3 separate regions of the Homo sapiens genome follow, and regions 2 and 3 are each linked to region 1. Evidence: fine-mapped expression QTL. A gene starts in region 1. Each other region holds a variant in brackets. All regions are shown on one strand. Distances are from middle to middle.

Evidence for each region. PIP is the estimated chance that this variant, and not a neighbour inherited with it, causes the effect.
Region 2: its variant is the best candidate, but not a certain one, in a credible set for the expression of SYTL1 in monocytes (Fairfax 2014, PIP 0.73).
Region 3: its variant is the best candidate, but not a certain one, in a credible set for the expression of SYTL1 in whole blood (INTERVAL, PIP 0.67).

Annotation. Positions count from the first base shown.
Region 1 is chr1:27,335,602-27,345,213 of GRCh38, reverse strand. SYTL1 (synaptotagmin like 1) reads right to left here and starts at 3,192. Exons shown (of 15, transcript NM_001193308.2): 1 at 3,064-3,192. TMEM222 (transmembrane protein 222) reads right to left here. Exons shown (of 6, transcript NM_032125.3): 6 at 8,814-9,612. RefSeq lists enhancers at 1,852-1,941, 1,940-2,557, 2,732-2,781, 3,312-3,571.
Region 2 is chr1:27,280,119-27,290,452 of GRCh38, reverse strand. WDTC1 (WD and tetratricopeptide repeats 1) reads right to left here. Exons shown (of 16, transcript NM_001276252.2): 4 at 8,168-8,214; 5 at 7,004-7,115; 6 at 2,592-2,779. Among named protein-coding and RNA genes, the nearest start is that of TMEM222, 37 kb to the left of the region's middle. RefSeq lists enhancers at 228-1,213, 2,887-3,529 and a silencer at 5,589-5,668. The variant AAC/C (reference allele first, on the strand shown) is at 4,455.
Region 3 is chr1:27,516,318-27,526,651 of GRCh38, reverse strand. It overlaps LOC105376892 (a long non-coding RNA gene), which reads right to left and starts at 4,165. Exons shown (of 2, transcript NR_188658.1): 1 at 4,106-4,165. RefSeq lists enhancers at 694-783, 712-1,350, 3,262-3,844. The variant T/A (reference allele first, on the strand shown) is at 5,352.

The DNA of each region.
Region 1 (9,612 bases):
CTTGGCCGGGTATGGGTAGGGTGCCACCCCAGGATGGCTGAGCTCAAGGTGGGGTGAGAGACACTCATGCACACATGCATACACTAGCCCTTGAACACACTTGGAGACACAGTGGAAGAAGCAAGAGACACACATGCACACACCCTGAGGTAGGGCCACACAGGACTGCAGCGATGGAACACACAGACACATGTGCACACGCGGGTCCATGTAGGCATAGATATGGTCGCACATGCACACAGACACCTGCATAAAGACAGGCGCATGCACAGCTGTTCCCCCAGAAAGGGCCCTCTGCAGACACAGACCCGGACCCATGCCCACGAGAGACATGCACACACATTCTTTTTTTTTTTTTTTTTTTTTTTTTTGAGGAGTCTTGCTTTGTTGCCCAGGCTGGAGTACAGTGGCACGATCTCATCTCACTGCAACCACTGCCTGACGGGTTCAAACCTCCTGCCTCAGCCTCCTGAGTAGCTGGGATTATAGGCACGCACCATCACGCCCAGCTAATTTTTGTATTTTTAGTAGAGACGGGGTTTGACCATGTTGGCCAGGCTGGCCTCGAACTCCTGACCTCATGATCTGCCAGCCTCAGCCTCCCAAAGTGCTGGGAGTACAGGCGTGAGCCACCACGCCCGGCCCTACACATGTTCTTAAATCTGCACACAGTGGCCAGGCGCGGTGGCTCACGCCTGTAATCCCAACACTTTGGGAGGCCAAGGTGGGCCGATCACCTGAGGTCAGGAGTTCAAGACCAGCCTGGCCAACATGGTGAAACCCCCTTCTCTACTAAAAATACAAAAATTATGGCCAGATACAGTGGCTCACCCCTGTAATCCCAGCACTTTGGGATGCCAAGGCGGGCAGATCACCTGAGGTCAGGAGTTTGAGACCAGCCTGACCAACACGGAGAAACCCCGTCTCTACTAAAAATACAAAATTAGCCGGGCATGGTGGTGCATGCCTTTAATCCCAGCTACTCGGGAGGCTGAGGTGGGAGAATTGCTTGAAACTGGGAGGCAGAGGTTATGGTAAACCGAGATCACACCATTGCACTCCAGCCTGGGCAAAAAGAGTGAAACTCCTCCAAAAAAAATGAAAAGAACAGAACAATTAGCTGGGCATGGTGGTACATGCCTGTAATTCCAGCTACTTGGGAAGCGAGGCAGGAGAATCACTTGAACCCAAGAGAAGGAGGTTGCAGTGAGCTGAGATGGCGCCACTGCACTCCAGCCTGGGCAAGAGTGAGACTCCGTCTCAAAACAAAAACTAACAAAAAAACCTGCACACAGCATATGCACACCAATGGGGATAGGCCCACCCGGATGGGTTCACCTAGACAAGAACAAGTCTGGGGACAAATATGTCCCTCGATAAAGATGTACATAAAAATCATACAGACTTTGGCACACATACATTGCCCGGCTAACTGGGTTGTGAGCTCCTTGGAGGCAGGGAGAGGGAGTCACCCTCAAAGCCATTACTTTGCACACAACAGATGGTTGGTAAAAGTTTGATTAATTAAATGCAGAAATATGCCTGCACACACATGGGAATGCACACATACAACCACCCACCTAGACAGACAGATACACACACACACACACGTACACACACACACATCTGCTCACTCCCCCGCACCAGGAACCTCACAGCCTGGGTCCCCTCCTGCCACCACCTCCACCCTGCCCTGGCCCACTTGGCCTTCCTGTCTGAGGCAACCTCCTCCTCAGCCCACACCCCCAACTTCCTCTCCTGAGGTAACTGCCGCACCCACTCCCACGGAGGCCTCCAACCCAGGGATGCCCCCGCCGCCAGCCCTGCCCTGTTGCCTGGAGCCACAGGGCCCCTCTGTTCTGGCCACACAGTTCTCCCCAGACCAGGCTGGGGTCCCGGCGGTGGAGGCCTAGGCTAGCGCAGCAGCCCATGCTCAGGTACCACAGTGACTCCGGAAAGAAAGCATTTGCCCAGCGCTGAGGGGCATGTAGACGTGGCAAGGGGCCCATGACTTGGTCAGGGCTGTGTCCTGAGCCCACTGGGCGGCCTCTCCTCTCTTCCCCGCCCCTTCCATTGCCACGGCTCCAGGTGGGGCTGAGACCGGCGGAGGCAGCTTGGCGGGCAGGTCCTGGCTTGTGTCCGCCGCCTGCTATGCTCTGTCCCCTCCCAGCTGAGTCAGTGGCCGAGCCCCAGCGATCCCTCTTGACACCCTCAGGAGCAGAAGGCCTCAGCACGGCTGCACGGTGTGCATTCACTCTGTGGATACCTGTGTGCTCCACAACAGCAGTTTCCCTGGACTTCTGTGGCCAACGTGTGAGCCCACGTTCGGCCTCCCCTGTGGATTGGGGTGTGAGCCCACGTTCGGCCTCCCCTGTGGATTGGGGTGTGAGCCCACGTCCCTCTCTGTGCCCTGTTGTGTGGCTGTGTGGGTCCGAGTCTGGTGGGCATGTCTGCGTTGCGTGAGTCTGTGAGCTGTGTAGTTGCTGTGTGTCTTTGTGTCCTGTTGCAGTGTGATGCTGCATGGTGACTATATTGTCTGTGTGGTGTGTTCAGTGACTTTCTAGGTGACAGCGCCGTGTGGGGTGTGTACAGTATGCATTGTGCATTTCCTCCTGTGCTGTATGTGTGACTGGGCTGTGTGCTGTGGGGTGTCCCCTGGTGCCTTGGGGGCCACCAGGTGTGTGTGTCTGAGTGTGGATGGAGGCCGGGGGGACGTTCGGCAGAACTGAGCCTATTTCTGTCCTTCAGGCCTGCCTGAGCTGGGCCATGGGCATCAGCCCAGCGTCCTCAGCAGTGCCCCCTCCCTGAAGTCCCCTCTCCTACCAACCAGAGGCAGAATCTCCTACCAGAGTTAGGTAGGAGTTTGGTCTTCTCTGCTGTTTTGACACGGTGGGACAGACCCATTGGTCAAGAGGAGGGTCTGTCCATCTGTCCAGCTGTTCCAGTTCCAGACATGTGCCCACCTCCCCCAACCCCAAGGTGCTGGAGGGTGCTCAGGATACCAGGTGGCAGTGCCTGCGTCTCTGGACCCTGGCAGGGGACCCTGGCACCGACACGTGTTACCTGTAGGGGTCCAGTATGGGAGGACACCTTCGCAGGTGGCTCCAGCTCCCCTGGCAGCCGAGTTTCAGGGACCGGGAGAAGAGCCGTGAGGGAAGAAGGCTGACTCAACAGGCAGCCCAGCCAGCAGCTGCCCCACACGGAGGAGGAGGAAACACCTCGGCAGGGCCTGATGCAAAACCGGGCCTGGACTCCCAGCGCCCGGGGGTGCGCCCCCGCAGCCGACTGGAGAGGCCCAGCTTGGCCCCAGCTCCACTGAGCAGGCCCTCTAGAACGGGTAGCAGCCCCACCTTGCCCACAACGGGGCTGATAGGAACTCGCTTTGAAAGCAAGTTAGAAACCTTTCTTTTCCAGCCCCAAGGGGAATGGCAGGATGGCAGACTTTGCAGTTAGACCACCCTGTGCAGAGTCCCTGCTCTGCCAGTGGGTGTGTGATGTGACCTTAAGCAGGTCTCTTCCATTTCTTCTGATGCAAACTGTGGGTAGCAGAGTGCAAGGAGCCTATACTAAGGGAAGTGAAAGTGCCCGGTGCGAGCTGGCATAGTCGGGGTGAGGTGTCCCCACTCCAGCATAGCCTAATGCCCACGGCCATCTCAGCAGCTGCTGCCCTCTATATCCACATGCACTTCTGGGACATGCTGGCAGAGCAGCCCTCTCTGTCCCCTCTGCTGTCCTGAGCCCCATCTGTTTGAGGAGGCCTGAACTCTTCTAGTGCCAAGGTGAGGGTCCCACACCCTCTGTCTATGTGGAGCCCCCCTGAACTCACCCCATTCTACACCTAGATTCTGCCCACCCTGAGATTAGAAGGTTTGGGCCCTAGATTACATTGGCTTCAGGACCATGAACCTCCTGGGTTGTCTTGGGCACAAGAGGCCACACCAAAGCTTTCTGACTCCCCCCAAGTCCACTTCACTTCCCATGGCCTGCCCTGGCCCAACCCCCTCCCCTGAACCTAGGGCCATGGATTAAAGATTAGTGGGCTCCTCATAGACCCCTGGGAGAGGCAGGACAAGGGGTGGATTCTAAACAAAACCAGTCTGGGCACAGTGACTCATGCCTGTAATCCCAGTACTTTAAGAGGTCGAGGTGGGCGGATCACTCTAGGACAGGAGTTTGAGACCAGTCTGGCTAATATAGTGAAACCCCGTCTCTACTCAAAATACAAAAATTAACCGGGCATGGTGGCAGGTGCTTGCAGTCCCAGTTACTCGGGAGGCCGAGGCAGGAGAATCGCTTGAACCCAGGAGGCGGAGGTTGCAGTGAGCCGAGATCGCACCACTGCACTCCAGCCTGGGCAACACAGCGAGACTCCGTCTCAGAAAAGCAAACAAGGCTGGGCGTGGTAGCTTACACCTGTAATCCCAGCACTTTGGGAGGCCGAGACGGGTGGATCACGAGGTCAGGAGATCAAGACCATCCTGGCTAACACGGTGAAAACCCATCTCTACTAAAAATACAAAAAAAATTAGCTGGGCGTGGTGGCGGCTGCCTGTAGTCCCAGCTATTTCCCGAGTAGCTGAGGCAGGAGAATGGCATGAACCTGGGAGGTGGAGCTTGCAGTGAGCCGAGATCGCACCACTGCACTCCAGCCTGGGCGACAGAGCGAGACTCCGTCACAAAAAAAAAAAGAAAAGAAAAGAAAAGAAAACTAAACACCCACTCTTCCTTCCTGTAATCAGAACCGACTCCCACCACCACTGAGAGACAGAGGACCCTCCTCCACCTCAGAACCACAGTGGAGGCTTCCCTACTTATTTTTTGCAAATTAATCTTATTTTTCTCATCTGTTAAATGGGGGTAATCTCTCCTTAGAGGGTTTTCACTAAAATTCAGTGAGATCCTTGCAGACTTTTTTTTTTCTTTTTTTTAGATGGAGTCTTGCTCTGTCGCCCAGGCTGGCTTGGCTCACTGCAGCCTCCGCCTCCTGGGTTCAAGTGATTCTCATGCCTCAGCCTCCCGAGTAGCTGGCACTACAGGCGCCCGCCACCACGCCTGGCTAATTTTTGTATTTTGAGTAGAGATGGGGTTTCACCATGTTGGACAGGCTGGGCTCGAACTCCTGGTCTCATGTGATCTGCCTGCCTCAGCCTCCCAAAGTGCTAGGACTACAGGCGTGAGCCACCTTGCCCAGACCCCAGTACTCTTGATTAATGCATTTATGCACCCACACATGCAATACCCATGGAGCAGCTGCTGTGGGACCATTACTGTGATGCTGCCTCCTTCATTAAGGCCCTCAAAATGGAAGGAGAGTGGCCAAGAACATCCACACCCCTTCCTGCCATCCTGGTCCTGGCGCCCCCAAGGATGTTTCTCTGCCCTCCTCTCACCTCCTTAGCAGCTCTTCCTCCTGGAAGGCATGAAACTTCATTATCTGGTCTTCGGGTTTCTAAATTTCCCTTCCTTTCTCTGCTCTCCTGTCCTTCCTATAGCTGTGACTCCCTGACGCTGATACTTCCAGCCATCTCTCCTGCTGTGTCTCAACCTGCATTCCTCTGGCCTCTTCCCCACTTGAAACCTATTTCCAAGTTTCCACCTCTGTAACCAGCCCCCATCATCCTGGCCCCTGGCCTCCTGCTGCTTCCTGCCACCTCCAGATGCTGTCCACACTTCACTCCAGGTGCCCTCCCATCTGTGTGTCTCTGCTGTCCTCCCCCTGCCCAGGTCTCAGTCCCCGCTCAGCCTCTTCTGGAAGCCTCCTCTTCTCCTGCCTCCTTGCGGCCACACAAGGCCACTCTGGCCCTATGTTGCACAACTTTCAAACGTACTTTTCTTTGTCATCCTCTGGTTTGGAAGGTGCCAGCAGACAGCCAGGCCATCCCTCGGGCCCATTCATACATTTCTAAACCAGTCCAGTCCCCTTTAGACACGTCCTGAGATGGAAGTCTCACCACTTCCCAGGACAGCCTGGCCCTCAGCCTGACCCTCAGGATTGCTGCCCTTACTCTGGCTTTCTCCCCTTCGTCACCTATACCCGTAGAGCCTTAGCTGTGGGCTATTTCCTGTCCTTCAACACCCCTGGGCCTTCTGTGCTCCCTGTGGGAATACTTTTCCCCAGCTCCAGGACTAGCTCAGCCTCCTCCAGAGTTCAGTGCCCCTGCGCTGCAGCCAGTCTCTAGGCAACATCCCTCTGTTAAGAGGGACATTAAGAGGCAGGGTCCTAGAGGCCAGCAGATCTGGGTTAAAATCTGGCTCTGCCGCATGGTTCCCTGTGGCCTGGGATCAATGACAATCCCTGTAAGCCTCACTCTCTTCCTTTATGAAGTGGGGACAATAGCCATCTCACAGGCCTGCTGCTGTCAGGAGAGCTTGTTTTTCACCTCCGCGGCCATTCTCCTTTCGCATCACAGCACCTCTCATTTCCACTCCTGTGCTCCAGTGAGGCCATCGCACAGGGTGGCTCTGAGTGGGGGCTCTGGAGCCCAGCTGCTGGGTTTGAACCATAGTTCCACTCTTCCTACCTCTGTGACCCGGAGCAAATCACTACTTCTCTGCTTACTTCTTCATCTGTAAAATGGGATGATGGCACTTACCTTGTTGCAGGGCTGTTGTGAGGCTAAGATGGTATTTTATTACAAGGCCTAGCACAGAGTAAGCACTCGCTAACTGTTGGTGACTTTTTTTTTTTTTTTTTAAGAGACGGGGCCTTAGGCCGGGCATGGTGACTCACACCTGCAATCCCAGCACTTTGGGAGGCCGAGGCAGGCGGATCATGAGGTCAGGAGTTTGAGACCAGCCTGGCCAACATGACGAAACCTTGTCTCTACTGAAAATACAAAAATTAGCCGGGCATGGTGGCAGGCGCCTGTAATCCCAGCTACTCGGGAGGCTGAGGCAGGAGAATCGCTTGAATCCGGGAGGCGGAGGTTGCAGTGAGCTGAGATCATGCCATTGCATTCCAGCCTGGGTGACAAGAGCAAGACTCCATCTCAAAAAAAAAAAAAAAAACAAAACAAAAAAAAAGAGAGAGAGAGAGGGAGAGACGGGGTCTTGCTCTGTCACCCTTGACCTCCTGAGCTCAAGCTATCCTCCCATTTCAGTCTCTTGAGTAGTAGCTGGGGCTGCAGGTACGCACCATCATGCCCAGCTAATTTTATTTTTTAATTTTTTGTAGAGATGGGGTCTCACTTTGTTGCCGAGGCTGGTCTCAAACTCTTGGGCTCCCTCCCTCCTCCAGCCTTGGCCTCCCAAAGTGCTGGACACTGTGGCTGACCCTGTTGGTGACTTCTATGGCACAATTTTATGTCCTGTTTCCCCCAGGCAAATTTTAAATTCTGCTAGGCTAACGCAGGCCTTAAGCCTTTTTTCTATCTATTCTACTGTGGCTGTCTTTGGTTTATTTTTTAATTTTTATTTTTGAGACGGAGGCTTGCTCTGTCACCCAGGCTGGAGTGCAGTGGCGCGATCTCGGCTCACTGCAAGCTCCGCCTCCCGGGTTCATGCCACTCTCCTGCCTCAGCCTCCCAAGTAGCTGGGACTACAGGTGCACGCCACCATGCCCGGCTAAGTGCTTGTATTTTTATTAGAGACGGGGTTTCACCGTGTTAGCCAGGATGGTCTCGCTCTCCTGACCTCGTGATCCGCCTGCCTCAGCCTCCCAAAGTGCTGGGATTACAGGCGTGAGCCACCGCAACCGGCCTGTCTTCAGTATTGAATTTGTCCCCCCTCAACCAACTCTCGGATGGACCCAATATGCAAAACAGGTTTTTGAAAATGGAATTGCTGGGGCCAGGCGTAATGGCTTATGCCTGTAATCCCAGCACTTTGGGAGGCTGAGGCGGGTGGGTCACCTGAGGAGTTCGAGATCAGCCTGGCCAACATGGTAAAACCCCGTCTCTCCTAAAAATACAAATATTAGCCCAGCGTGGTGGCGGGCACCTGTAATCCCAGCTATTTGGGAGGCCGAGGCACGAGAATTACTTGAACTCAGGAGGCAGGCGTTATAGTGAGCTGAGATCGTGCCATTGCACTCCAGCTTGGGCAACGGAGTGATTCTGTCTCCAAAAAATAAATAAATAAGAAAGAAAGAAAAAAAAGAAAAGTAAATGGAACTGCTCTGAAGTGGGGAGAGGTCACCTCTGCCTTGCCCTGGAGAAGTCCCAGGCTTGCAGACCACAGCACTGCAGGGTCTGGGGTGAGCTGGCAGATGCCTGACCAGGGACCCCATGGCCAGCTGCTAGAGCATGTCCTCAAGGCCACGTTCAAGACCAAATCCTTGGCTAGTTCAACTGAAGTGATGCATGGACAGGGTTGGGAAAGGCTTCAGGGAGGAAGCGGCTTTTAAGCTGGGCCTTGGTTAGGCAGGGCCGCCATGAGAGGGATGGTGGAGAGCAAAGGATCGGAGGCAAGCGAAGGCTGGATGGATACAGTGACCAGAGGCTGGCAGTGCTCTTGGCTCATCCCCAACTCTGTACCCCGGCGGGTGGTGGGGACAGCAGTGGAGGCTCTACTCAGCCCTAACCCCAAGCCTACAAGTCCTTCCCAACAGGGACGATGGAAGGGGTTTCAATGCCCACCTGCCTCAAGAGGAAAGCTTTGGAATGGGGAATGGAGAATGGCAGGGAATCCCCAGACTTCAGGGGCGGGATATACCTGAGGGATGCTGATGGCCCCAGGCACTGGACGCAGACTCAACCATGGTGCTGGCAACTAGACCCTTGTCAAGGGTAATAGGGTCCCAAGAATACCAAGACGCTATGAGCTAAGGGGCAAGGGGGCCCCAGAGAGGGAGAAAACAATGACAGGGCACCAACTGGAGTCAAAACTCTTTATTGTCCTGCCCAGGGAGCCCTTCCCAAAGGAATCCACAGAGCAGGGGGGCGAGGCGGGCGGCACAGGGCCTTGGTGACAACGTGAAGGGGGAGCTGGAGTTAGGTGGGGGACAGCCCCTTCAGCTCCCTGATGGCACTGGCTGTGCTGGCAGGCCACCCAGGGGAGCCATCACCAGCATGAGGTCCACACCTGGGGCTGGGGCTGAGTGCTGTCTACACTGCTCTGTCTACACGGTTACTCTGGCACTTGTCAGGTCCACTCACCTCTCTGGCCTCAAACTGCAGGGGGAGATGGGTCCAATGCTGGGAGGCACTGGGAGGCCGTGGAACAGTGAAGAGCGGACTGCACGGGCTGGAGGATGCCAGATGGGCACACATGTCCCCCAGGGCAGCTGCCGGCAGGAGTCTGACAAAGGGACCCAGCCAGCCCCTCTGGACCATTCTAGAGGCCAGTGGTGAAGGTCCTGAAGCAACTTGGCTTATAGAGACACGTTAAGTGTACCCGGTGCACCCCATGCTGGGACCAGCTCTGGTCCCAGGGCCACCTTGACAGGTGAGCCCAAATGTCCTCCTCTCCCCATACTGGGCACTGGGCTGAGGCAGGACCCCAGCAGGTGGTGGCGGGAGCAGCTCTACAGCGGGAAGCCAAAGCCTTTCAACAGAAGAACAAAGGGGCTTCCAGGGCCGGAGTCACAGGCCTGGGGAGGAGGGGACAGGGTGCTTCTGAGAGGCAGGGAGACAACAAACCCCCACTTCATGCTGGTCCTCAGTCCTTCCATCC
Region 2 (10,334 bases), 55 kb after region 1:
GAGAGTTTACTTTTACTATTTAGTGAGGATACAGACAAAAAAGTAAACCAATAAGTAAAAATAAAATAAGGCCAGGTGTGGTAGCTCACACCAGCAATCATAGCACTGTGGGAGGCCGAGGTGGGAGGATCACTTGAGCCCAGGAGTTTGAGACCTGCCTGGGCAACACAGAGAAACCCCATCTCTACAAAAAAAATAGAAAAATTAGCCAAGCATGGTGGAGCGTGTCTGTAGTCCCAGGTATTCAGGAGGCTGAGGTGGGAGAATCGCCTGAGCCCAGGAAGTCAAGGCTGCAGTGAGCCATGATCACGCCACTGCACTCCAACCTCGGCAATAGAATGGAGTGAGACCCTGTCTCAGAAAATAAATTAATTAGCTCCCTCTCCCTCTCCCCCTCCCCCTCCCCACGGTCTCCCTCTCCCTCTCCCCACGGTCTCCCTCTCCCTCTCTTTCCACGGTCTCCCTCTCCCTCTCTTTCCACGGTCTCTCTCTGATGCCGAGCCGAAGCTGGACTGTACTGCTGCCATCTCGGCTCACTGCAATCTCCCTGCCTGATTCTCCTGCCTCAGCCTGCCGAGTGCCTGCGATTGCAGGCGCGTGCCGCCACGCCTGACTGGTTTTCGTATTTTTTTGGTGGAGACGGGGTTTCGCTGTGTTGGCCGGGCCGGTCTCCAGCTCCTAACCGCGAGTGATCCGCCAGCCTCGGCCTCCCGAGGTGCCGGGATTGCAGACGGAGTCTCGTTCACTCAGTGCTCAATGGTGCCCAGGCTGGAGTGCAGTGGCGTGATCTCGGCTTGCTACAACCTCCACCTCCCAGCCGCCTGCCTTGGCCTCCCAAAGTGCCGAGATTGCAGCCTCTGCCTGGCCGCCATCCCGTCTGGGAAGTGAGGAGCGTCTCTGCCTGGCCGCCCATCGTCTGGGATGTGAGGAGCCCCTCTGCCTGGCTGCCCAGTCTGGAAAGTGAGGAGCGTCTCTGCCCGGCCGCCATCCCATCTAGGAAGTGAGGAGCGTCTCTGCCCGGCCGCCCATCGTCTGAGATGTGAGGAGCGCCTCTGCCCGGCCGCGACCCCGTCTGGGAGGTGAAGAGCGTCTCTGCCCAGCCGCCCCGTCTGAGAAGTGAGGAGACCCTCTGCCTGGCAACCACCCCGTCTGAGAACTGAGGAGCCCCTCTGCCCGGCAGCCGCCCCGTCTGAGAAGTGAGGAGCCTCTCCGCCCGGCAACCACCCCGTCTGGGAAGTGAGGAGCCCCTCTGCCCGGCCAGCCGCCCCGTCCGGGAGGTGAGGGGCGCCTCTGCCCGGCCGCCCCTACTGGGAAGTGAGGAGCCCCTCTGCCCAGCCAGCCGCCCCGTCCAGGAGGGAGGTGGGGGGGTCAGCCCCCTGCCCGGCCAGCCGCCCCGTCCGGGAGGGAGGTGGGGGGGTCAGCCCCCCGCCCAGCCAGCCGCCCCGTCCGGGAGGGAGGTGGGGGGGGGGTCAGCCCCCCGCCCGGCCAGCCGCCCCGTCCGGGAGGTGAGGGGTGCCTCTGCCCGGCCACCCCTACTGGGAAGTGAGGAGCCCCTCTGCCTGGCCACCACCCCGTCTGGGAGGTGTACCCAACAGCTCATTGAGAACGGGCCAGGATGACAATGGCGGTTTTGTGGAATAGAAAGGGGGGAAAGGTGGGGAAAAGATTGAGAAATCGGATGGTTGCCGTGTCTGTGTAGAAAGAAGTAGACATGGGAGACTTTTCATTTTGTTCTGTACTAAGAAAAATTCTTCTGCCTTGGGATCCTGTTGATCTGTGACCTTACCCCCAACCCTGTGCTCTCTGAAACATGTGCTGTGTCCACTCAGGGTTAAATGGATTAAGGGCGGTGCAAGATGTGCTTTGTTAAACAGATGCTTGAAGGCAGCATGCTCATTAAGAGTCATCACCACTCCCTAATCTCAAGTACCCAGGGACACAAACACTGCAGAGGGCCGCAGGGTCCTCTGCCTAGGAAAACCAGAGACCTTTGTTCACTTGTTAATCTGCTGACCTTCCCTCCACTATTGTCATATGACCCTGCCAAATCCCCCTCTGCGAGAAACACCCAAGAATGATCAATAAAAAAAAAAATAAATAAATAAAAATTAATTAATTAATAAAAATAACTACAGGTGGCAATTAGAGTTACAGAGGATATAATTGTTAAAACAAGCATAACGTCTGTCTACTTTAGACAGGATGGTCAGAGAAGGTGCTTCTGAAGAGGTAACTGAAGCTGATCTCCTTAGGATAAGAAAGAGTCCGACATGGGAAGAGCTGGGGACAGAGAATCTCAAGTAGAGGAAAGAGTAACGTGAATGCCCAGAGGCAGTAGAGACCCTGGACACCTGAGGTGGTGAGAAAAAGCTTGTGGGCCTAGAGGTAGTACAAAGGAGGGCAAAGAGGGAGGAAGGTGAGGGCGGAGTAAGCAAATGTTCCCAGTGGAGTTTGTACACAGACAACTGCCCTGGGCAGACAAAGGAGGTTGGACCTCTGCTGGAGGGAAAGAGCTAGGTCTGTAGAAGGAAACACTATAGGATGATGGGATGGGGGAGCGACAGGCTCCACTAGATGCCCCAGACTCTTACCGGATAAGCCCATCCTCAGCAGCACTCCAGAATGTGTTGGGCCACATGGGCGCTGTGGCGATGCGCTTCACCCGGTTTGTGTGGTCTCCAAACATGTGGATGGTCTCCTTTACTGTCAGGTCGTGCACATGCACCTTAGAGTCGGCTGCCCCCGTGATCAAGATGCGGTCCCCAGCGTGAGGCAGGAACTATATAGGAGAAATGGAGGAAGGGGTGGGTGGTAAGAGTAGAAATGGCCACGGAAGGAGGCTAGCCTGGATGTCTGCACCCTTTTCTCTCTCCATGTCAGATAAGAGAATGAGCCCATGCAGGCTGGGCGCGGTGGCTCATGCCTGTAATCCCAGCTGCTCAGCAGGCTGAGGCAGGAAAATCCCTTGAACCCAGGAGGCAGAGGCTGCAGGAAGCCAGAGGCTGCAGTGAGCCGAGATTGTGCCACTGCACTCCAGCCTGGGCAACAGAGCGAGACTGTCTCAAAAACAACAACAACAACAAAAAACAAAACAAACCCTTGAGGTTCAGCAGTAATATACAGCAAGATTGTGTTCAAGCCCAAGTCTGTCTGACTCCCACATGCCCTACTTGCCTCATTATGACTACTTAGTAACCTAGAGATTAAGTAATAAATTAGTCCTGAAGTGAAAAAGACTTTGAGTGTTTAAGGGAATGGGTGTGTGTGGGTTTTTTTTGTTTTTTTTTTTTGAGACAGCGTCTCGCTCTGTCACCCAGGCTGGAGTGCAGTGGTGCAATCTCGGCTCACTGCAACTTCCACCTCCCGGGTTCAAGCGATTCTCCTGTGTCAGCCTCCTGAGTAGCTGGGATTACAGGTGTGCACCACCACGCCCAGCTAATTTTTGTATTTTTAGTAGAGACAGGGTTTCACCATGTTGGCCAGGCTGGTCTCGAACTCCTGACCTCAGGTGATCCACCTGCCTTGGCCTCCCAAAGTGCTGGGATTGTAGGCATGAGCCAGAATGCCCTGTTGGGAGTGAGTGTTTTAAATTAGTTTGACTGCTTCTGAAAAACAATCTGGTAATAGTAACAAAGATTAAAAACAATTTCTAGTTTTTGACTCAAAACTTCCACTTCCAAGAAATAATCCAGGCCAGGCGTGGTGGCTCATGCCTATAATCCCAGCACTTTGGGAGGCTGAGGCGGGCAGATCACAAGGTCAGGAGATCCAGACCATCCTGGCTAACACGGTGAAACCCCGTCTCTACTAAAAATATAAAAAAATTAGCCGGGCGTGCGCCTGTAGTCCCAGCTACTCGGGAGGCTGAGGCAGGAGGATGGTGTGAACCCAGGAGGCAGAGCTTGCAGTGAGCTGAGATCACGCCACTGCACTCCAGCCTGGGCAACAGAGCGAGACTCCATCTCAAAAAAAAAAAAAAAAAAAAGGAAATAATCCAAAAAGAAAAAAGGGACCTGGTCAGAAATGCTTGGATGCCTCTTATAATAGCAAATATTGGAAACAGCTCAAATGTTGGACAATAGGGAAGGGCTGAGCATCAAGAGGATACATCTCTATGCAGTATTTATTAAAAAAAAAAACAAAAAAAACCGGCCAGGTGCCGTGGCTCACACCTGTAATCCCAACACTTTGGGGGGCCGAGGTAGGCGGATTACCTGAGGTCAGGAGTTTGAGACCACCCTGGCCAACATGGTGAAACCCCGTCTTTACTACAAAAAAAATTAGCCGGATGTGGTGGTGTGCACCTGTAATCCCAGCTGCTCGGAAGGTTGAAGCAGGAGAATCACTTGAAGCCGGGAGGTGGAGGTTGCAGTGAGCTGAGATGGCATCACTGCACTCCAGCATGGGTGACAGAGCAAACAAGACTCCATCTCAAAAAAAAAAAAAAAAAAAAA[AAC/C]CACCATCCTGATAAAGGCAAGAACAAAATACTCCAGATGACATCTGATAAGAAAAAAACAGCTGCAACCATAGCTTCAAATAATGAAAAAAGAAAGTATGCAGTTCTGGGCTGGGCGCTGTGGCTCGCACCTGTAATCCCAGCACTTTGGGAGGCGGAGGCAGGTGGATCACCTGAGGTCGGGAATTCAAGATCAGCCTTACCAACATGGAGAAACCCTGTCTCTACTAAAAATACAAAAAATTAGCCGGGTGTGGTGGTGTATGCCTGTAGTCCCAGCTACTCGGGAGGCTGAGGCAGCGGTGAGCCGAGATCTTGCCACTGTACTCCAGCCTGGGCAACAAGAGCGAGACTCTGTCTCAAAAAAAAAAAAAGAAAAGAAACAAGAAAGAAAGTATGTAGTTCTATCACATAACTTTGAGGATAAAAAATATTTGGGAGTGGTGTTGAATTCTCGTGTGAGTTCAAAAAATTGAAATATCTTTTTTTTAAAATTGAAAAGTTCCTCCCTACCCACAACAAGGCTGAGTGGTAGTGTTGGGGGAGGGGCAATGTCCTACACTGAAACAGCTGATGTCCCACTTGACTTTAAATGTTCACAAAGAACAACAATTCACTCTTTCCACATAGGCTTCTCTAAGGGCCATTAGAACAAGGTCTAGCCAGGCACTGTGGCTCATGCCTGTAATCCCAACACTTTGGGAGGCTTAGGTGGGTGGATAACCTGAGGTCAGGAGTTCGAAACTGGCCTGGCCAACATGGTGAAACCCTATCTCTACTAAAAATACAAAAATCTGCCAGGTGTGGTGGTGCACACCTGTAATCCCAGCTACTTAGGAGGCTGAGGCACAAGAATCGCTTGAACCCAGAGGCGGAGGTTGCAGTGAGCCAAGATTGTGCCAACTGCACTCCAGCCTGGGCGACATTCAGAGTAAGACTCACCCTCAAAAAAAAAAAAAAAAAAAAAAGACCAAGGTCTAGATGAAATAGACATGATTTAATTATTTTAGGGACAACCAGTAGTCTTTAATCCTGTCTAGAGACGGCATACACTCAATGCACAGCAGAAATAAACTGGGGAGCCCTTGTCATGATCTTGTGGCTGCTGCCACACGCATCACACACCATAGTCACCACCAGGGGGAGCGCATGAGTTAAATACATATACATCTGCAGTGTTTCCACTACCTAAAGAAAGAAGAATCCTTTTCAGGTTGTTTTTTTTTTTTTAAATAGAAGAGGAGGCTGACAGTCTGCATGTAAGTGCCGTTCCCAAGGTCTTACCGTTAGGGAGTATCAAGACCATTATGAAATTCTGGTGTTAGAAATCAATGTCTTGTGCTCTGATGCTAAACTAATGGCTTAGGTCCCCTTCCCCAGGCCTGACTGTGCAGACTAAAATTGGACCTAAACTCTTTGCAGGGGAAGAAAGCAGTTTCCGTTAGTCATATAAGAGGTAAATCATCATTGTTCTGTCTCTAAAGGCGAGAATCATAGCTTGAGAAGAAAAAAGGGTTTAGGAAAACAAGTAGGTTTGGAGCTATCATCTTGTTCAGGTATCTTGTAATTCCTCTTGATATTAATTACGAAAATATTTCTTAGAATAGTGAGGGTTTCCGAAGGACAACTTCATTCTCACATCTATCCATTATAGAATCTCAGAGCTGGAAAGGCCCTTCCTTGCAGGCCATTTCTTCCAACTTTAAATCTTGGAGATAAAGCACCTGGCGAGTGGACAAGTGCAGGGATAGGACATTTACTCATCTCCTCCAGGGGCCCATTCTACATTTTTCAAAGAGCTCTAAGCATTAGACAGTTCTTTCTTTCCTCAGGCCCACATTTAATTCTGTGGACTTACAGCCACTAGTCCTAGGTCTGTTTTCCACAACAAAAAAACATGTCTCATGTCATTTCCAGGGCTTCAACAGAGCTTCAAAGGTCTGAAGACACTTGTAAGTCCCCTTCTCACCTCTCCTCCGCTCAACTCCCCTCCTCCAACAAATCAAAATATTCATTTCCTATGAAGGGGTAGAACAGATAAAAAGCACTGGGCACAGACTTTATTTTTATCAATTATCTCATTGAACTGTCACATCAACCTTGTAGACTGTTATTTCCTTTTAAAAAAATTAATTTGTTTACAAATCTGGGAGATTTTCCTTCGCTGCTTCCTTTTTTACAGATGAGCAAACAGGCTCAGACAGGTCAGGTGATTTGCCCAGGTCACACAATGCCCAAGAAGCAGATAAGGGAGTCAAACCCAGGTATGCCTGCTCTCTAAGTTCACGTTCAGAACCATACCCCCACCACTACCATTCACATAAAGATAAATTCATCTAGAATTGGCCGCTTAGCTCTAAAAGAGGAAGAAGAACATGGAAGAGAAATGAGGTTTCAGGAATCACCAACAGATACTTAGATCATAAGGTTGTCTGTGACCCTAGACGGTATATGGGACACACACATACCAACATGGCGTGGCCACAGCCCAGTCACTCTTGTGCTTGATCTGTGGCTTGTGCTTGCTCTGTGGCTTGTCCTGCTCACCTTGACAGAGAAGATATTTGCGGTGTGTCCCGTGTGCATGGAGAGCAGCTTCTTGTGGTGCAGCGGGTCCCACACAATCGTGTGCTGGTCATCGGAACCAGAGGCCAGCAAGCTGAAAGCAGAGTGAGGGATTGTGATCTCTCCTCAAATTCCTAGGCTCCCTTTCCCCATCCCATGTTCTCAGTTTACAAGGAGTTAGGTTACAGAATTTGAAGAACAGTAAATGTCACAGAATTTAAGGTTGCCTTGTAAACAGCTGATTCTCTTCTATTTTGTCCTGAGAAATTTCCATTATTCTTTTTTTTTTTTTTGAAATGGAGTCTCGCTCTGTCCCCCAGGCTGGAAGTGCAGTGGCGCGATCTCGGCTCACTGCAAGCTCCGCCTCCCAGGTTCACGCCATTCTCCTGCCTCAGCCTCCTGAGTAGCTGGGACTACAGGCGCCCGCCACCACACCCGGCTAATTTTTTGTTTTTTTGTAGAGACGGGGTTTCACTGTGTTAGGCAGGATGGTCTCAATCTCCTGACCTCGTGATCCACCCGCCTCGGCCTCCCAAAGTGCTAGGATTACAGGCGTGAGCCACTACGCCCGGCCAAGAAATTTCTATCATTCTTAAACACATTGGCTTATTAAAAAAACAGGGTTTTGGGCCGGGCGCGGTAGTTCATGCCTGTAATCCTAGCACTTTGGGAGGCTGAGGCAGGTGGATTGCCTGAGCTCAGGAGTTTGAGACCAGCCTGGGCAACATGGCAAAACCTCGTCTCTACTAAAAATACAAAAAATTAGCCAGGCATGGTGGCGCATGCCTGTAGTCCCAGTTACTTGGGAGGCTGATTAAGGAGAACCGCTTGAACCTGAAAGGCGGAGGTTGCAGTGAGCCAAGATCACGCCATTGCACTCCAGCCTGGGTGACAGAATGAGACTCTGTCTCTAAAACAAAACAAAACAAAACAAAACAGGGTTTGGATGGTCATCCAACTTTCCATCTATCTGAGATTGTTTAATTGTGTTGAAAATTATGGGCTAAGCTGAAGAACGGCAGACAGCAGCAGTCTCTTTTCATTTGGGTCCAATCTTTTCCTTGGATCCTCTCAGGAGGAGCCTTGCTGTTCCACCCTCCTTACTTCCTTCCCCAGCACCCTTCAGGTGCTCTAGCTCATACTTACTCTCCTTTCTCATTCCACTCCAGACAGTTGACACATCCTGAGTGACCCTGGGGGAGCAAATGAAGAGACAGGAAGAGAGTTGGTTAGGGGTTCTCCTGGGGAACTCAACACCAAGAAGTGGAACTGAACAGGTAAACCAGTCTTTCCATTTTCAATATTTTCCAAGTGCATGTGAGTGGCCAAAGTGGACTTAAACTGACTAGCGTCTTACAATATATAAAGTACTTTCATATTCATGATCTCACTTGATACTGGGCACTTCTGAGCCATAAAGGACAAGTTTCATTGATCCCGTTTTGCAGAAAAGTAAACTGAAGTTCAGACAGTAGAAAGCAGTAAAAGTGAGATCCAAACACATTTCTGCTTTTACCATTAGAAGGAGTATGTCAGCCAGGCACAGAGGCTCACACCTGTAATCCTAGTGCTTTGGGAGGCTGCCCAATCTGCTTTGGGCAGATTGCTTGAGCTCAGGAGTTGTAATCAACCTGGGCAACACGGCGAAACCCCATCTCTACAAAAAACACAAAAATTAGTTGGGTGTGGTGGCATGTGCCTGTAGTCCAAGCTACTCGGGAGGCTGAGGTTGGGAGGATGACTTGAGCCTGGGAGGTGGAGGTTGGAGTGAGCTGAGATCGCACCACTGCACTCCAGCCTGGGCGACAGAGCCAGACCGTGTCTCAAACAAAACAAAACAAAAACAGAAAAAGAGATATGTCTGAAACAGTACCTTCAAGGGATACCCTCTCAGTCACAGAAAATTTGCCAGGAAACATTCAATCCAAGGACAGCCAATTAACTAGAAGGCTAATCTTTTATTCACCCAGCATTTTTTTTTTTTTTTTTTTTGAGACAGAGTCAGGCTGGAGTGCAGTGGCATGATCTCAGCTCACTGCAACCTCCGCCTCCTGGGTTCATGCCATTCTCCTGCCTCAGCCTCCTGAGTGGCTGAGACTACAGGCGCCCGCCAACACGCCAGGCTAATTTTTTGTATTTTTAGTAGAGACAGAGGTTTCACCGTGTTAGCCAGGATGGTCTCGACCTCATGATCCGCCCGCCTCGGCCTCCCAAAGTGCTAGGATTACAGGCGTGAGCCACCGCGCCCAGCCTCACACGGCAAATTATTCATCAAGCACCTACTGCATGCCAGGTACTGTTCAGATGCTGGGGGTACAGGAGTATAAAAAACTCCTTGGATCTTCCAGAGCTTAATTCAAATAGGTAGAGCCTGGTGCAGTAAGGTAAATTAGGTCAGAGTCTTTATCTTGGGGATTTGAAAAAAAAGAGAGAGAGACTCTGTCTCAAAAATAAAATAAAATAAAATAAAAATAAGAAAAAGAAAAAGGAGAGAGATACCAAACAAACCCAGAAAAAAACAGGAATGTCAGGCTTTAGGAAGAGGCTTAAAGGATCTTTGAGAACATTTTCTGACTTTCAGGCAAAGCCTGTGATCCAGTTTGTGTAGCTACACATAAGGACCCTCTCTTAACTACAACCCAGTGAGATTCATCATATACACATTTAACGTACCTGCTGACTTCAGGCCTAAACCCTTGTGTAATGAGGCTCAACCTAAAGGGTCAATGTCAAAGAGCATGAAAGTTACAGATATTTAATGAAGCCTCCACAAAAAATGCCAACTAGGAAAGACAGGAAGCAGACAGCCAAGTGCTTCTCTCTAACTTCTTAAAAAACAGCATGAATGAGTCTGAACAAGCAAGATTTAGATTAAAATCCAGCAAAATTAACAGAACACTTACTAAATGCCAGGGTAGATGCTAAGCTTTCACTTTTGTCAATTTATTTAAGCTTCACAATACACATACTTATTACCATGTATTAAGGTTATGTAGGTGCAATATTTTAACAGAATGGAGTAAGTTCTGACAGCAAATAAAACTTTAAAAAATTCCTCACTCACTCTCCATTGACTTAATGATATGTTGTCTTAAAGTCAGAATGATTTGAATATCCAGACATTTCCATAAAATCTTTTCTTTTGTTCCTTCTTTAATCCAGCTCAATGTTTTCTCAAATTTTAGTGTGCCTAAGAATTACTTATATGGAGTAGTAATAATTATAAGAATAGGTAAACTTAGCTTACTATGTGTCAGGCCCTGTCCTAAGTACTTCACATAATTACCCTTGAAAATCCATTAAGTTGTCCATA
Region 3 (10,334 bases), 180 kb before region 1:
TGCAGAGTCCATCCCTGCTAGTATCTGCAGGCCTGCACAATGAAAGGCAGAAACCCACATACACAGTCATCCATGTGCACACACAAGAACACAGAGAAGGTCGGGTGTGGTGGCTCACGCCTGTAATCCCAGCACTTTGGGAGGCCGAGGCGGGCAGATCACCTGAGGTCAGGAGATCGAGACCATCCTGGCTAACATGATGAAACCCTCTTGCTACTAAAAATACAAAAAATTAGCCGGGTGTGGTGGCACACGCCTGTAGTCCCAGCTACTCGGGAGGTGTCAGAGCGAGACTCCGTCCCCCCCTCCAAAGAAAAAAAGAACACAGAGAAACATACAATACACTCAACTTGTACCGATTGACCACAGTGCCCAAGGCAGGCAGTCGCTGACACCACTGATGCAGGCAGGAGCCCGACATGTGGAGAGGCACAGGTCCCCAGAGGACCACGGGCCCTGACATGTCCCACCTGCACCCACACAAGTACCCATAGCACAAACACGTGCCTGCCTAGGGTGTGGTGTGGGCAGAGCTGAGACTCCTCCCTACCCACAAGCTCATCATCACAGCAGATCTGCCCTGGGGTCAGAGGGCCCTAGTGGCCCCAGAACCAGAGCCCAGTGAAGCCCTGTCTGGCCTGGGCTGCATCCGTAACCCTCAGGCTTAGGGAGGAGACAGCACCAGCCTTTTCCCTGGGAGCCCCTGGCCTGAAGGAGACAGAGCTCTGTCCCCTGGAGTCCCTGGATGGGCAGAAGAGGCACAGACCTGCTCTGTGGAGCTCCAGTCTGATGGGGGCCATATCTCCTTGCCAGGTAGACAGACACACAGACACACACAGCTCCTGGGGGGTTCTTGAGGGCTTCCTGAAAGAGGTGAGCCTGAAGCCTGGCTTTGGAGCCCAAGAGGAAAGGGGGAAGGGTGTGTACGAAGGAGGGCCTCCCTTCCTTCCCCTGTGCCCCGCCCCCTCATCCAGCAGTTCCTCCTCCCCGCAGGGCCCAAGGGGCCGGCTGGGGCCCCACAGTCCCATCAGCCCAAGCAGTGAGCAGAAGGAGGAGAGCAGATATTTTTAGCTTCTCTGCCACTGACATTTCGCAGCAGGCGACCTGGGGTGAAGCTGAGTGAGTGCTGAAGGCTGGGAGAAGCCGACAGCGCCTTCCCACCCCCATGTACAAGCACACACAACTGTGCATGCACACAGTTGTGTGCAATGCTCACAGACGTGGCCCAGCTTCAGGTACACAGTCACACGCCTAGACACACATGCACCTGTGCACGTACTTGGTTCATAGGCCACTTATGCTAGAAACCTCACACACTCAAGACACAAAAAATTTATCCATTCACACACCCAGACACACACGCACGATTCATACACCTAACACACTTCCCACACCCTGCCAAGCATGCACACTTTCATTCATCATTCATTGGAGAAATATGTATACAGTGCCTACTAAGTGTTGGGCCCTATTCTGGACACTAGGAATAGATTAGCAAAATAGTTAGCAAAATAGATAAAAATTTCAGTCCTAATAGAGTTTACATTCTGACAGGGGAAGTTTGACAATAAACAAAAAATAAAAAATAAAGTATAGCCTTAAGAACCACAAATATAGGCCAGGCACGGTGGCTCGCACCTGTGATCGCAGCCCTTTGGGAGGTCGAGGTGGACAGATCACTTGAGGCCAGGAGTTCAAGACCAGCCTGGGCAACATGGCAAAACCCCGTCTCTACTAAAAATACAAAAATTAGCCAGGCGTGGTGGCACACACCTGTGATCCCAGCTACTCGGGAGGCTGAGACACGAGAATTGCTTGAACTCAGGAGGCAGAGGTTGCAGTGAGCCGGGATCCTGACACTACACTCCAGCCTGGGTGACAAGAGTGAAACTCCATCCAAAAAGAACGACACATATAACCTAATCCCCCAAAATACACAACCGCACATGTGAACAGCTTCCTAATATTCACTGCTCCACAAATACACACAACTGCACACACAACCTACAGGCAAGACTCATACAGGTAACTCCACACATATACCTCAAGACAATTACAAACATGTATACACATCCACACTTATATGCAGTTACACATTTAACATGTAAATACTTAAGCAATTCAAACACATGGTACATATTCATCCAGACACACACACACACACACACACACACACACACACCACACACAATTGTACAGAGCTATACAGTTCACCTGCCTACATACACAGGATACAGCCTCCCCAAGAACATGTAAGGCAGGTTCACACAAATCCTTCCACACATAGACAACCACTCCCTGCCGGTCATAGACACACATTCCTGCAGTCCTTCCCCTCCCCACTGAAATCCCAGCTTGTCTGCCACTGGGTCATGTATGTTCATAGGTGTCCACACAGAGTCCTAGCGTACTCGCAACCTCACGCACACTCTCAACAACCCTGCTGCAAAGAGACCACACACACTAAGTCAACGCATGCCCAGGTTCATGCCCCCTAGGTACCTGCAATCCCCTCCCTCCTTTTCCCATGAGGGCAGTTCGGTCACTGCACCCCACACCTGCACCCCGAATACTGACCCCAGGACTCCAACCCAGCTGCCCCCAGGGTTTGGGGGTTGGGCCCAGACCCTACAGGAGCCCTGGGGTCCTCTCCCCAAGGCCCCAAGAGGCAGGACTCAGAGTCTCTGAGCTCAGAGCTCGCCCCTGTGCCCAGGCTGGAGGTGGAGGTAAAGGGCAGCCTGGGCTTCTCAGCTCTGCCGCCAGTGCCCTCCCCTTGCTCTTCTCTCCTCCTTCCTCTCGTCTCAAATTCCTTTCGTTCTGTTTCTCTGTCTCCCCATCCCACCCCTATCTCTCCAATAGCCCTTGGCCAAAAACCAAGCCCTCTTCTCTTCCGTATTCTGCCAGAGGGTATTGAAGCCCTGTGACAAACAGATGGACTAACAGGCAGACAGACATATCACTTGGGCAACAAAAGCAACACAAAAAAGAGGTCGTTGTCATATCCCGAAGACCTGGGAGGAAGAAAAGATAAATGGACCAAGGGAAAGATAAGACTAAGTGGCCCATGGGCCAACATGCACAGCTAGGAGAAGGAGCCCTGGATTCCAGTCCTGGTTCTGCTGTGTGACCCTGGATCAGCTGCTGCTCCTCTCTGGGTCTTTTCTGCCTCTGTACAAACAGGGAGTTGCGGTAGGTGTTTTTTTGAGGCAACAGGACTCTCAAAGACACTGCAGCAGTTGTATAAACAGGGAGAGGAGCTGGGGGCCTTGAGGGCCTGGTTAGAGCCATAAAAGCCCCTCCCCAGAGGCTCTCCACAGCCTCTTCCCCGCCCTAGGCCTGGGCTCCAGTCTGGGTTGAAGCACCAGAGGCCAACAGCACCCCCTGCCCCCAACATGCATAAACACATGTGCTCCTCCGAGACTCAGCTACTTCCTTTGCCCTCTCTGGACCTCAGTGTCCAGGCTTGTGCATTTAGGGGCTCAGGTTTGGGCTCTGTGCCTATGAGCCAGTCTATGTGTGCACTGTCTGTCTGTCTGTCCGTCTGCCAGCAGCCTTCAGGCGCCAGGAGGGGAGGCAGCAGTGGAAGGTGGGGGCAGGGAAGGAGGTAGCGTTGACAAGTTCCAATGTCTGGCTTTCCCTCCTGGAAACCCCGAGCTGGGGCTGGCCCCCCCTTCCCTTCCTGTCTCTCTCGCTCAAGCACGTCCCTTCTAAGAGCCCCTCTCTGCAGACGCCCCCAGTGGAACCAAGCCCAGATTCGCTGCCAAGAAGGCCGACATTTCTTAGACTTGCCACGTTAAAGGGGCCTGCACAGGCACGCACTCAAATCCCCCCCTCCATGTCCTCCGCCTGTGCACATTCAGGCAACCCGAAACACACAAAGACACGGTTGGACACAGCGGCCACCTGTGCACACAGGAGGTAGCACATGGAGCGCATCTGACCCCGGGCTCACAGACAAGTACAAACATAGCCATGGACTCCCTCCGCCCTCCTCCATTCAGCCTGCCACAGACCCAAGCACGCAGTTTCCAGCGCACCGTGCTCACAGACACGCACAAACGCAGTCACACGCAGGGCCTTGCCACATAGAGAAACAAGTGCAAACCTGTAGCACAGCACCGTCACCATCACCACCACCGCCGCCGCCACCGCCCTGTGTAAATGCAACCACAGAAACACAATGCCTGTGCTGCCTGTTCCCTGTACACACAGCCAAGCATATACAGTCACACAGTGTTCCCCTGAGTCACTCTCAACAACCACACAGACAAAGTCTGTTGGGCACAGAGGCGCCCATACCCATCCTCTGGACATTTGGACTAGCCCACACCACCAGTACTGTGCCTTCCTGGGCACAAGACATGCACAAAATCCCAGCCACCTGCAGAGTTCCCTTCTGCACACACACTGTCCCTTGCACATACACAGACAAGCTCAAACCCACAGTTATGCTGTTATCCTCTTGTACACCATAAAATCACAGGGGCTCCCAACACACCCAGATGTGACATACACAAACTCAGGCACATGTACCGACTCTTTTGTGCATACAAAGATTTATTGGCACTGACGTGGTGCCCATCTGCTACCATGTGCACACACTGCTAGATCTCGCACGTCTCTGTACACAGGCCTGCGTTCAAACTCAGGGCATACAGCTTTCCCTTGTGCTTACACAAACACACAGTGGCCCCCGATGTCGGCACAAACCCACACACATAGCATCATCACCTGTGCACATTGAGGCAAACACAGACTCACAAACCACCCCAACGTGCTCTTCCATGCACACACATATGTGTGCATGCTCCCACAGACAGACCCAGCTATCGGAACCTCATTCTCAGACACTGCAGTCCCCTGGCCCCCAACCCCAGCTTCCTGCCTCCTTCCCTTGGCCGGCGAGGGTGGGGAAGGGCTGGGAAGGCTGGGGGCTGGCTCAGCCCTTGTTCCCTCCCTCCACCGGCTGGCTCGCTCCCTCCTGTCTGGCAGAGTCAGCCAGCCAGCCCAGCCCCGGCTCCGGCAGCCCTGACTGCTCTGGGCAAACTCTCGGCGGGTTGGTCTCGGCTGATGCCGCATCAGCAGCAGCAGCAGCAGGGGCGAGAAGGCTGAGGGTGGATGCCAACGTGGCAGACGGCAGGCAGGGCGGCAGGAAGGAAGCTGGGCCCGTTCTGCGCCCACTCACTGGGGGAGACAAAACCAAGGGGGCTGGATGAGCAAGCGAGGCAGCTGGGCAGGGGACCTCGTGCACAGCCTGGCTCTGGGCCCACACTGGCCCCAGACTCACGGAGTGACCTTGGGGAACTTGCTCCCCTTCTCTGGCTCTATTTGCCCCTTCAGCAAGTGGATAG[T/A]ATGGACTGGACACTCCTCCAGGTCCAAATCCTTGCATCCAATTCAGTGCTCTGTGGCCTCGGGCTAGTCCCTTCCCCTCTGGAATCTTAGCCTTTCAGCCCAACAATAAAAATTCTTCACCTCTGTATGGCTACAACTATTGATAAAAGGTTTTCAATCTACAAAATTAGCACCATTTTATAAATAAGAAAACTAAGGTTCAGAGAGGTCAAACAATCCACCCAAGGTTACCCAGCAAGAGAGTGACAGAGCTGGAACAAGACCTCAGGGCTTCTGCTTTAGTCTCCAAAATCAGTACTGCCTCCCTTCTCTTCCAGCCATCCCATGCCCCAACTCACCCTTCAGGGTTGTCTGCCCACACCACCTCCCAGCCCTGGGCCCCACTAGAGCCACCTGGCTCTGCCCTGGGGAGTCAGGGTGCAAAGGCCAGACAGGCCTCCCACCAGCATTCCAGCTGCCACTGGGAACACAGCTGTCAGCAGGGCCGGGAGAGCCAAAAGCCGCCTCCCCAGCAGGCCCGCATAATTGGTACATTGTCAGCTCAAAAACAGAACTGCTATGGGATCTTGGGCTCTCCAGGCCTCAGTTTCTTCATCTGGCTGGCTGTCGTGGAAAGGAGGAGATGATCTCCAAGGGCCTTTTCAGCTTGGAGTGTTGCCTAAGGAGTGACCGAGGGAGGAGGCAGCTGTGCCAAGGTCCCCAGCCAGCCATGGGTGTGCCTCAGGTGTCCAGAGCCCTGGAATTGGGTCTCTGCCTCACCTTTAGTTTGGGGTGGGATCTGCATCCTCTCTGAGGTCCCGCAAAAGGGAAGGGCTTGGAGAGAGTTTGCAGGCCGGATGGATAGACACACAGATGGAGGAACAAAGGTCTGAAGGAGAGAAGGAAAGAAAGTCTTCAACCTGCACTGAAGGAGGGTGCAAAGGCAGAAGACCGAGGGAGGCCCCCATGCCCTTCCTTTGTTTCTTTCGCCACCCTCTCCTGAGGCTCACTCTGCCCAACCCCACAGGGCTCAGTCTGTGGGAAGGACAAATGTGGGACAGTCACAGGCAGGTGCAGCATGCTGTGGGATGAGCCCGGGGACTGTGGAGGAGGCCCTGCTGGTTTGTGGGGGTGAAGAAGATTCTGGGGGAGGCATCACAGGTAATGAGCTCAGGTTTCCAGGAAGAGGAAGAGTTAGCCTGTATGTGCAATGATTACCCCCATTTTACAGATGGGGAAATCAATGCTTAGAGGTAGAGAAACAGAGTCAGGCCTTGCACCCAAGCCTGCTTGACGGCAAAACCAGTGTTTTTTGTGCTATGCCATGCTGCCTCCCGAAGGAGTGCGTTGCTAACGGTGGCATTTCAGATGTAGTGACAGTGCACCGGGAAGAGGTTCTGGACAGATGGTTCCCAACTGGGCCCCTGCCTCAGGCTAGCAGAGCAGAGGGTTGTCAGGGCAGGCAAAGCACGCCCTCCTCCACTCTGCTAGTGTGTGGGCTGTGGGCAGGTCCCCGCTCCACTCCTCACCATCCCCCTCCAGCCCTTTGGCCTTGCCTGGGTGACCTGCATGAGCTCAGCTTCCCAGCAGCCCTGCAGAGGAGTCAGCCTGGGCAGAGGCTGCCTCTGCCCTCTCGCTGCTTGGCAGTGCCAGGGGAGGCGGGGCCACGGAGGGGTTGGGGAGACGTCCAGCCACCAGACCTCCGGTCCTGTCCCCCAGGTCTGGTGCCCCTGAGGTCTTCTGCAGAGGGCCAGGCTGGGACAGGTAGTGTGGAGCTGGGCACGCTGGTCAGGCCCGTCCCTGTCGCTGCAGCCTTGTTGAGCTGCCATTAACAAGTGGCCGGAGGTTGCCGTGTCTCCATGGAGACCAGACAGTTAGTGCGGCTCCGGGGTGAGGGCCGTGATTAGTGAGTGTCAGCTTTGCCAGCCCTGCTCTTCCCACCGCCCGCCTGCCGCTGGGCTCAGAGACAACAGGCCTGGCAGGGGGATGGGGAAGGACTGGGAGGGGGCTCAGGGCCCTCACAGGCAGGGGGGCTCCCAGGCCCAGCCCCAAGTGCTATGTCTTTGTCTCCCCCAGTGGCTCCTCAATTCCCCCTCCTCTAGTCTCCCGCGTTCCCTCCCCAATCCATCTTCCACACAGCGACCAGGGTGAGCTTTCTAATACGAGCTGCATCCTGACACTGCCTTCCTTTAGAACTTTCCATGGATCCCCGTCTCCTGGAGGCTAAGAGTCAAATTCTTTATCATGGCATTCAAAGAATTCATTCATTCATTCATCACTCATTCATTCAACAAATATTTTTTGAGCACCTACTATGTGCCAGGGAGCCTGCCAGGTATACATGGTCAATAAAACCAGCGAGATCCCTGCCTTCATGGAACTTCCAATCTAGTGAGGAAGACACACTGAGAATAAAATACAAGTCAACGGATACACGATTACAATCATGAGAGTTGGGAGGAAGTGGAGAGAGTGCATTGGTAGAGAATAATTTGTAGGGGAGGCAGCCGAGTTAGAGTGGTCAAGGTGGCAGCATTTGGACAGTCACAGACATTGCTGAGGATCCATCAGTGTGCACAGCATCCCAGAAGGGAAGAATACTCCAAGGAACGGCCTGGGCCAGGGCCCCAGTCTCCTACCAAGGTAAGGCTCCGCCCTGCCCCTCTGCCCTGGCCTACTCCTCCCTCCCTCCCTCCAACCCCCTCCTCCATGGCTCCTATCTTGGTTAGAGGCACAGGGCTTACCCAGGTGAAAAAAAAAACACCTCTGAGTCATCACCAACTCCTTCTTCTCTCCCTGTGTTCTCCTCTCATGATTCCTGGGTCCCGTCAATTCTATCGTGTCTCTTCTCTCCTCGCTGCCACCGCAGACCCTGTCACTTTCACTCAAACTATCACACCTGCCCCAACAGGCTTAGCCATTCATTCGTTCCCTACCGATCATGGATTGAGGCTCCAGGCATTATGCCTTAGGGCCTTGTGGATACAGCAGTGAGCAGTGCCACACAGTCCCTGCCCTTGGCCAGAGTCCAGTCGACGAGGCAGGCAGGTGGGCAGGTCTGCAAGCACAGAGGAGGAGTAAGTAGGAGCATCTAATCTGGACTGGGAGGGGTGTCTAGTAGAGCTTCCGGGTGGAAGTGCTGGCTAAACTGAGACCTGAAGGTGGGCAAGGAGTTAGCCAGGCAAAGTCAAGGGAAAGATACTCTAAGCAGAGGCAAGAGCACGTGGGAAGGCAGGAAGTCAGAGAGGTCCGAGCCTGAGCTAGGGCTGGTGAGGAGCGTGCTCAGATCTGCTCCCCGACAGCCAGGCTCTCCTCGTACAGCTCACGCTCCACACTGCGGCTAGAATCACCTTTCTAAAATAGGCGCAATAAGGCCAGGCACCGTGGCTCACGCCTGTAATCCCAACACTTTGAGAGGCCGTGGAGGGTAGATCACGAGGTCAGGAGATCGAGACCCAGCCTGCCCCACACGGCAAAACCCCGTCTCTACTAAAGATACAAAAAAATTAGGTGGGCGTGGTAGTGCATGCCTATAATCCCAGCTACTTGGGAGGCTGAGGCAGGAGAATCGCTTGAAGCTGGGAGGAGGAGGTTGCAGTGAGCAGACTGCACCACTGCACTCCAGCCTGGGCAACAGGGCAAGACTCCATCTCTAAATAAATAAATAATAAAAATAAAATAGGTATAATCCTGTCCCTTCCCAGCCCTTAAACTCCTGCTCTGTTTCCCCAGTCCTTTAAAGTCTGCCCTCAATAGCAAGGCACTGGAGGCCCTCAAAACTGCCTTTCGAACCTCATTTCCTACCACTCCTCTCAGCCAACTCTGTGTTCAGCCACACCCAAACAGGTCATATCCTTCCATATCCCTGGGCCTTTGTCCACAAAATACATTCCTCCTGGAATGCCCTCTGCCACTTTTCCGGGTGAACTCTTCATCCTTCAGAGCCCAACACAGATGTTCCTTTTCTCTAAGAAGCCTCTCTGGACCCCCACCTCCCCAACAAAAATGAGTTTCTCTTCTATGCCCCATTACAATTCATTTTTATTTATTTATTTTTTGAAACAGAGTCTTGCTCTGTTGCCCAGGCTGGAGTACAGTGGTGGGATCTCGGCTCACTGCAACCACTGCCTCCCAGGTTCAAGCAATTCTCCTGCCTCGGCCTCCTGAGTAGCTGGGATTACAGGTGCACTCCGCCATGCCTGGCTAATTTTTGCATTTTTAGTAGAGACGAGGTTTCGTCATGTTGCCCAGGCTGGGCTCGAACTCCTGACCTCAGGTAATCCGCCCGCCTTGGCCTCCCAAAGTGCTGGAATTATAGGCGTGAGCCACTGTGCCCAGCCTATGCCCCATTACATTTAATTCCAGATAGCTAATACTCACTGAATGCTTCTTTCTATGTGCTAGGCTTTACATAAGCATTCCATGTTCGTGATCATATTTAACCTTCATGGTTATATTATTAGAAAGTGTCATCACTCCCATTTTGCTCATGTGAAACTGAGACTCAGAAAGGTTAAGTAACTAGCTCATTTCACAAACATAATCAGTGATAGAGCTGGGATTTGAACCCAGGCAATTTGTTGCCACCATTTATATGCTTAATCCTTATTCCACACTGCTCTACAGTAAGGTGTTCTAGCAATGTATTTGCCTCCCCTACCAGACTAGCAGCACTTGGAGGACAGAGGCCTAGACTAACTCATCCAGGGTCTCCAGGTCCCAGCACATGGCTCCACACACAAGTCACGGTGTGCAAATGTGTGTAGAATGAATAAATAACTTTAGCTAGAATGCTGCCGGAGGTTGAGATGGGCTTAAAGGTTACTTAGGGCAAATTGAGCCTCCGTATCCTGTGTGGGTCTGGTCATTATCCTGGGACAGATACCATACCCACTCCAGCACCTAGCTCTGGCACAGCCCCAAAAAGGATCTGCTGGTGGCTTTGGGATTCCCATCCCTTGGCTAGCAGCCCCGTTGGAGTCAGACAGATTCAGCTTTGAGTC